Linked DNA regions of Homo sapiens. The protein of the gene in region 2 purifies or fractionates together with the protein of the main gene of each other region. This does not show direct contact. Each region holds a gene or a part of one and is shown on either strand. Other genes may lie near its edges. The genes, in order: COL2A1 and OSCAR.

Evidence for each region.
Region 1: the proteins of OSCAR (region 2) and COL2A1 purify together in Homo sapiens (affinity purification with mass spectrometry; one large-scale study listed by BioGRID and IntAct). This does not show direct contact.

Annotation. Positions count from the first base shown.
Region 1 is NC_000012.12:47,994,290-47,997,976, forward strand, and holds part of COL2A1 (collagen alpha-1(II) chain isoform 1 precursor), read right to left. Parts: intron 3,636-3,687; coding exon 3,582-3,635; intron 3,419-3,581; coding exon 3,317-3,418; intron 2,337-3,316; coding exon 2,259-2,336; intron 1,631-2,258; coding exon 1,586-1,630; intron 1,475-1,585; coding exon 1,421-1,474; intron 1,020-1,420; coding exon 966-1,019; intron 189-965; coding exon 135-188; intron 1-134. UniProt on the Homo sapiens protein: Type II collagen is specific for cartilaginous tissues. It is essential for the normal embryonic development of the skeleton, for linear growth and for the ability of cartilage to resist compressive forces.
Region 2 is NC_000019.10:54,093,941-54,098,001, reverse strand, and holds the end of OSCAR (osteoclast-associated immunoglobulin-like receptor isoform 4 precursor), read left to right. Parts: intron 1-837; coding exon 838-1,140; intron 1,141-1,848; coding exon 1,849-2,130; coding exon of another isoform or gene 2,131-2,324; exon of another isoform or gene 2,325-2,644; coding exon 2,645-2,781; 3' UTR 2,782-3,334; downstream 3,335-4,061. UniProt on the Homo sapiens protein: Regulator of osteoclastogenesis which plays an important bone-specific function in osteoclast differentiation.

The DNA.
Region 1 (3,687 bases), on a different chromosome or scaffold from region 2:
TGGTCGTGATAAATATAGGGGCTACTGGCGTTTCATCTCAGAAGTGACCTCATTGAACTGGATGCACTGTGTTTAAGGCCACAGGGAGGGAGACGCTAGGAAAGATGCCTGAGGCTGGGAACGGTGGCGTTTACCTGAGGACCAGGCGGACCCCTTTCACCAGCTTTTCCAGGTTTTCCAGCTTCACCCTGAAGGGAGAGAGAGAGATATCCCAGCTTCCTCAGAGACGCAGTAGCATAGTGGGGGCACCCCAGAGGGCTTCCCTCCTTCCAGCCCTCCATGCCTTTGCCTACCGGCTCACTCATCTCCCTCACCTCCTTCAGACTCCACGTGCCTGGATGCCTTTCATGGGTCACCATTTATTCTTTTGGACACATGCATAGCCCATGGGCAAGCTCCTCTGTCCTCACCAGCCTCCAACTTCCCCTGAGAGGCTTTTTCTCTCCTCTCCTAGGTTCTGCTGACTGTATGTGCTCTCTCTAACCTCAAGAGACTTTTACTGTCTAATGCAATTCATAAAAATAGCACAAGAGTGCCAATTCTTGTCTCTTCATTTCGTTTGCATCCTTTGTAGACATCCTGACTCAGGCTGTGCTTTTTCTAACTCATTTACAATTAAGATAATGCTGGGTTGTTGAACGCTTCTTTCTTTGTTTTTCCTTCTCTACATCTTTCTGCCTTGTATTTTTTCTCTCCCTTCTCTCATTTCTCAATTTCCCTTCCTGGGGCTAATGATGTTTTAATTATTTGTCTTCCCCTTGGATCCAAAGCGGTCCCCAGGGAACTTGCCAGCACAGTCACAGTGGCCATATAGATAGGAGATGGCGTCAGGGTTTGGGACTGCCCAGTCTTGCTCCTCAAGATACCTCCACCCTGGGTGCCTCCCTGTCACTCCCCAAGCACACACCCTCTCCAGGCCCTTTCAAAGGAGGCAGCTCCTCATTTGTCTACTCGTGTATACTCACATCATCACCAGGCTTTCCAGGGGGACCAGGAGGACCACGGGGACCCATGGGACCCTACAAACAAAGGAAGATAGTTTAAGAGATGGTTATAGTGGGAAGACACCTAAGCAATGGACAAAACTTTGACATTGTAGTTTTGGAAGCCAGTTCTTCTATGAAGAAGAAAGATGGGAAGGTCAGAGCAAAGGTGCAGAGATCATAGTGGGACGCAGCAGATAGCACAGGCTGGGGTGACCCGGAAAGGGGGCTGTTAGGACAGAGTCCCTGGTGGTCCTTGCCACATTGGGCTGTCTGTCAGAGTTCCTCCACAGCTAGGAAGTGACATCCGAATTTCCTTGGGGCCACCGACTGTGGGAAAGAGCTGGGCAGAGCCTGGGAGGGACAGCAGCTGCGGTCCTAGTGGTCTATCATTAGAGGCTCCCCCAGAGAAGGGACAGGGCCGTGCTGGTACTCACAGAGACACCAGGTTCACCAGGTTCACCAGGATTGCCTTGAAATCCTTGAGGCCCCTAAAAAGTAAAATGAGGATACCAGGTCAATCCCTATAAACTGCTAAAACATCATAGTGCTTGGGAATCATCTGCGACACGATGGAGGCAAAAAGAATTGCAGATACTTACAGGAGCACCTGCAGGGCCTGGAGGTCCTCGAGGTCCCATGGGGCCCTGCATCGGAACAGAAAATGAGGGGTTTACTACACATGCTTCCTCAGTGGCCTCCAGTGTGCCATCTTCTCCCAGCCAACAGCCCGGGCAAAGGACAAGAAGTTACTCTGTGGGCAAGGGGCCTAGAGTGGCTGCTCCCTCTCATTTCCCACTCCCCACGCAACACTCTATTTTTATTTATAGGCACCATTTGGACAGAAAAGCTGGCCTTGCTTTCTCCTGGACAGCAGCCATGTTTACTAAAGGCTGAGTTTCATTTAGCATGTGCCAAGTCAGAGCTGCGGGCTGAGATTTCCTGCTGGAAGTCTGTGGATGCTGGAGAACAGTAGCTGCTGTCTGCATTCTTCAGTTCTCATTCCAAGAGCAATAGCAACTGGTCTTCTAACAGATCAGCCTATATGCATCTCCCCATCTTCATTCTTCTTAGTCACTCCAGCGCATCATTAAAAGTGGCATCCATTGCCATTAAAAACCAAATGCTTTGGGCTAGCTGAATGGGAGGTTACATAACTACGGAGGAGAGCCACTCTAAGCAATTATCTGTAAAGCAGAGGTTGTCAGACTCTCTGGCTCTGCTAAGGGCCACCTCCTGCCATTTTGGCTGCAAAGAACTAGTGTCTTTTCTTACCATTGGTCCTTGCATTACTCCCAACTGGGCGCCACCAGCCTTTTCATCAAATCCTCCAGCCATCTGGGCAGCAAAGTTCTGCAAAGAAACCCAACAACGTTAGGAGGTTGAAAGGCACTAGGTCTTCCCTACTTGGCTAGGTAAGCTCTATATGGATACAAAGAACTCTACTGAGATAAACTCTGATTGTTGGAGACTAACCTATCATTGATCAGAATTACCACTGATGCCTGGAAAGTAATTTTGGGAATGGATTATTAGATGACAGTGGCAAAATCATTTCACTGGAAGGGAAAGTGTTATTTGAGGAAGTATCAGTTCCTTGCATTTCATTTTATAAAATTATTTTTATGCTCTAAAATATGACAGATGTTATTTAACGTATATGGAGAAACATAACCAAACCTTCTAAGGGTGTTCTTTATTCTTTAAGACTTTAGTGCCCAGCAAAAGACTAAAATCAACAGTCTTGGAATATTTCAGCAAGAGATGTAGTAGGCATCTGTGATCCCATTTGAGTTTAAGAATTTAAAATACAGCAAACATCAAAATAGCAAACCTGCAAAAACTAGGCAATCATATAATTTGTTGATTGGTTTGATTCCAGAATTGACTTTAGCCACACACCTTCACTCAGTGGAGCTCTTTCATGAGAGTGAATAGTTGCTTGGAATGTACTTGGCAAGAACCAAGGATAAATGTCTTCCAAGGACAGTGGTCACTCGTCTTCCAGGGAAATACAAGTGCCCAGTCATCCTTCCTCCTATCCCTTACACCCACCCCCCAGCATCAACTACGTGGTACAGATGCCAGGAAGCCAGGTAACTGAGGACTTTCTTTATAGAATCCCAGTTAGTGAAAAAAGCCAGCCCTTAGCACCACAGTCTCATGCCTAATATGTGACTCTTCTAAATTACAGGCCTGAGGGCAAAGCCCATGGACAGGCTATGTACACACTGCTGGCAGCCCTGGGAGCCAGCCAGGTAAGTGCAAGCAGCAATTTAAAAGCCACATTTCTGGAGGGACAGCCTGAAGGAATGGGAAGTAAGGATACTTACTCCACCAAGACCAGGGGGACCAGGGGGGCCGGGAGGACCAGGGGGGCCAGGATTTCCAGGGGTCCCAGGTTCTCCATCTCTGCCACGAGGTCCAGGGGCACCCTTGGCATAAAGAGAAAAAGGCATCAATGGGAAGCAGTGTTTCTCCAAGAGCCATCTGTCCCTTGGCTGCTCTTTAAGAGGTGACCAGGCCCTTAAACACATGGTGGGGCCTTGGGGGACCTGGGAAGTCCACCAGGGTCAAGCAGCATTGCTTTTTACTCACTTTTTCACCTTTGTCACCACGATCCCCTCTGGGTCCTTGTTCCCCTGCAGGTCCCTGAAGGTGAAGAACATGGTAAGATGACAGCAAGGCCAGGAGCCTGCAGATC
Region 2 (4,061 bases):
GGTAGGGATCCAACATTTTTCTTTTCCAAATAGCAAGTTTTGGCAACTCTTGAAATACTATATTGCAAATATTCTGGAAAGCTATTTAAAATTAGAGTTCTGGCTGGGCGTGGTGGCTCACACCTGTAATCCCAGCACTTTGGGAGGCCGAGGTGGGAGGATTGCTTGAGCCCAAGAGTTCAAGAGTAGCCTGGGCAATATAGCGAATGCTCGTCTCTACTAAAAATTAAAAAAAAAAAAATTAGCCTGGTGTAGTGGCATGTGCCTGTGGTCCCAGGTACTCAGGAGGCTGAGGTGGAGGACTGTTTGAGCCCAAGAGATTGAGGCTGCAGTGAGTTGAGAACATGCCACTGCACTCCTGCCTGAGCAACAGAGCAAGACCCTGCCTCAAAAAAAAAAAAAAAAAAAAAAAAAAAAGTCTGGGTGTGGTGGCACAAGCTTGTAAACTTAGCACTTTGGGAGGCCGAGGTGGGAGGATTGCTTGAGGCCAGTAGTTTAAGACCAACCTGCTCAACATAGGGAGACCGCCCCCTCCCATCTCATTACTTAAAAATAATAATAATAATAAAATTACAGAGTTCTGGGACCTGACCTTTTGAAACTGTGTTTACAAACTGTGGAGTAAAGCTCAGAAGTTTCTGTCCTGCCCCTCTGATTTGCACCTGGTTTTAACAAGGCTTGATTGTAGTCCAGTCTCTCCCTGATTTTACAAACAGGAAACTGAGGCTAAGAAAGGGGCAGTAATTGTCCAAGGTGATTTTCCTCCTTCCCCAACTTCCCTTTCATCTTCTGGGGCTCCCAGGAGGCCCGAGGACCCAGGCAGCCCCGTTTATTCAGTCCCCCCAGCTTCATACCACCCTAAGCCATGGCTGGGAGCTCAGCCGGCTACAGTTGTGACCCCTGGGGTCAACGTGACCTTGAGATGCCGGGCACCCCAACCCGCTTGGAGATTTGGACTTTTCAAGCCTGGAGAGATCGCTCCCCTTCTCTTCCGGGATGTGTCCTCCGAGCTGGCAGAATTCTTTCTGGAGGAGGTGACTCCAGCCCAAGGGGGAAGTTACCGCTGCTGCTACCGAAGGCCAGACTGGGGGCCGGGTGTCTGGTCCCAGCCCAGCGATGTCCTGGAGCTGCTGGTGACAGGTGAGGTCCTGGGGTCGGGGAGGAGAAGTGGGTGGAACAAGGGAGTTGGGGGAGGGACAGAGAGATATAGGGAAAGAGAGACAGAGCGAGGCGGGCAAACAGATTCACAGACACAAGAAAAGACAGATACAGAGACACTAGGGGGAGAGAGAGAGACAGGGGAGCAGAGAGAGAGAGAGGTACAGTGCGGGGGGAGAGAGAGAGAAAGAGGCAGAAGGAGAAAGGGAGGCAGAGAGAGAGGGAGGCAGAGAGAGAGGGAGGCAGAGAGAGAGGGAGGCAGAGAGAGAGGCAGGCAGAGAGAGAGGGAGGCAGAGAGAGAGGGAGGCAGAGAGAGAGGGAGGCAGAGAGAGAGGGAGGCAGAGAGAGAGGGAGGCAGAGAGAGGGAGGCAGAGAGAGAGGCAGGCAGAGAGAGAGGCAGGCAGAGAGAGAGGGAGGCAGAGAGAGAGGGAGGCAGAGAGAGAGGGAGGCAGAGAGAGAGGGAGGCAGAGAGAGAGGGAGGCAGAGAGAGAGGGAGGCAGAGAGAGGGAGGCAGAGAGAGAGGGAGGCAGAGAGAGAGGCAGACAGAGAGAGAGACAGGCAGAGAGAAAGAGAGGCAGAAAGAGAGAGAGAGGCACAGAGAAAGCGAGAGACAGAGGAGAAGGAGAAACAGAGCGAGCGAGCGAGCGGAAGACGCTCACGCGGCCCCGGACTCTCACCCCGTCTCTGCAGAGGAGCTGCCGCGGCCGTCGCTGGTGGCGCTGCCCGGGCCGGTGGTGGGTCCTGGCGCCAACGTGAGCCTGCGCTGCGCGGGCCGCCTGCGGAACATGAGCTTCGTGCTGTACCGCGAGGGCGTGGCGGCCCCGCTGCAGTACCGCCACTCCGCGCAGCCCTGGGCCGACTTCACGCTGCTGGGCGCCCGCGCCCCCGGCACCTACAGCTGCTACTATCACACGCCCTCCGCGCCCTACGTGCTGTCGCAGCGCAGCGAGGTGCTGGTCATCAGCTGGGAAGGTGAGGGCCCTGAGGCCCGGCCCGCCTCCTCCGCCCCAGGAATGCAGGCCCCAGGACCTCCGCCCTCAGACCCAGGAGCCCAGGCCCCCAGCCTCTCCTCCTTCAGACCCAGGGGTCTAGTCCTGCAGCCCCTCCTCCCTCAGACCCAGGATTCCTGGGACCCAGCCCCTCCTCCCTCAGATCCAGGAGTCTAGTCCTCCAGCTCCTCCTCCCTCAGACCCAGGATTCCCGGGCCCCAGTACCTCCTCCCTCAGACCCAGGACTCCAGGCCCCCAGCCCCTCCTTCCTGGACCCAGGACTCCAGGCCCCCAGCCCCTCCTTCCTGATCCAGCAGTCCAGGCCCCAGCCCCTTCTTCCTGGACCCAGGAGTTGAAGCCTCCATCGACTCCCCCTCAACTTTGAGACTGTAGAGTCAGGTCCCTAAGTCCACCCCAGGGGCTGGAAACCTGGAGTTCAGGGCCCAGACTTTGGGGTCCGGGAGCTGATGGCCCCTCTCTCCCGGCTCCGCCCGCAGACTCTGGCTCCTCCGACTACACCCGGGGGAACCTAGTCCGCCTGGGGCTGGCCGGGCTGGTCCTCATCTCCCTGGGCGCGCTGGTCACTTTTGACTGGCGCAGTCAGAACCGCGCTCCTGCTGGTATCCGCCCCTGAGCCCCAGGAGCACTGCAGCCCGAGACTTCCAACCTGAGTGGCGGAGAAGCTGGGACCCTGGGCTGGACTGTCCTTTCCTGCAGCCCCACAGTCCTGCTGGCTGAGCTCCGCGGAACGGTCCTTAGACCCCGCTGTGCCCTGTGCTGTAGCTTCTTTCCAGGCCTTTCCCAAGGAGTAGCTGAAAGGAAGACGCGATTAGTGGTTAAGACTTCCAAGCCAGAAGACAGAGGGTTCGAATCCCAGCACTGCCGTCTACTCACTGTAGTAGTAGCAGCTACAGAAAGGTAGTAGTGAGACGTGAAGCCAGCTGGACTTCCTGGGTTGAATGGGGACCTGGAGAACTTTTCTGTCTTACAAGAGGATTGTAAAATGGACCAATCAGCACTCTGTAAGATGGACCAATCAGCGCTCTGTAAAATGGACCAATCAGCAGGACACGGGCGGGGACAATAAGGGAATAAAAGCTGGCGAGCGCGGCACCCCACCAGAGTCTGCTTCCACGTTGTGGGAGCTTTGTTCTCTTGCTCTACACAATAAATCTTGCTGCTGCTAACTCTTTAGGTCCGTGCCATCTTTAAGCGCTGTAACACTCACCACGAAGGTCCCTGGCTCCATTCTTAAAGTCAGCGAGACCACAAACCCACAGGAAGGAACCAACTCTGGACACGGTAGCAGCATTCAGAAAGCGCCCTTCCCCAACTCTCTCTTGCCTTGACGGTAAAATGGATGCACTGATAAAACCCACTTCATAGGATTGTTGTAGGAGTCAGTGGGTAATACACATAAAACATTTAAAGCAGTAACTGGCCCGTAGTAAGTGTTCAATAAATGTTAGCTACCCTGTAACACCGATTTCTACCAGACTCAGTGCCGAAAGGAAGGTCTCACCTTTTTGCCATCAAGCATAATCAAGCACGACTTTTTCTTTCTTTCTTTCTTTCTTTTTTTTGAGAGAAGATCTCACTCCACCCAGGCTGGAGTGCAGTGGCGTGATCTCGGTTCACTGCAACATCCGCCTCCCGGGTTCAAGTGATTCTCGTGCCTCAGTCTCCTGAGTAGCTGGGATTACAGGTGTGCGCCATCACGCCCAGCTAATTTTTGTATTTTTAGTAGAGATGGAGTTTTGCCAAATTGGCCAGGGTGGTCTCGAACTCCTGACCTCAAGTGATCCACCTGCCTCGGCCTCCCGAATAGCTGGGATTACAGGTGCGTACCACCATGTCCGGCTAATGTTTGTATTTTTAGTAGAGACGGGGTTTCACCATGTTGACCAGACTGGT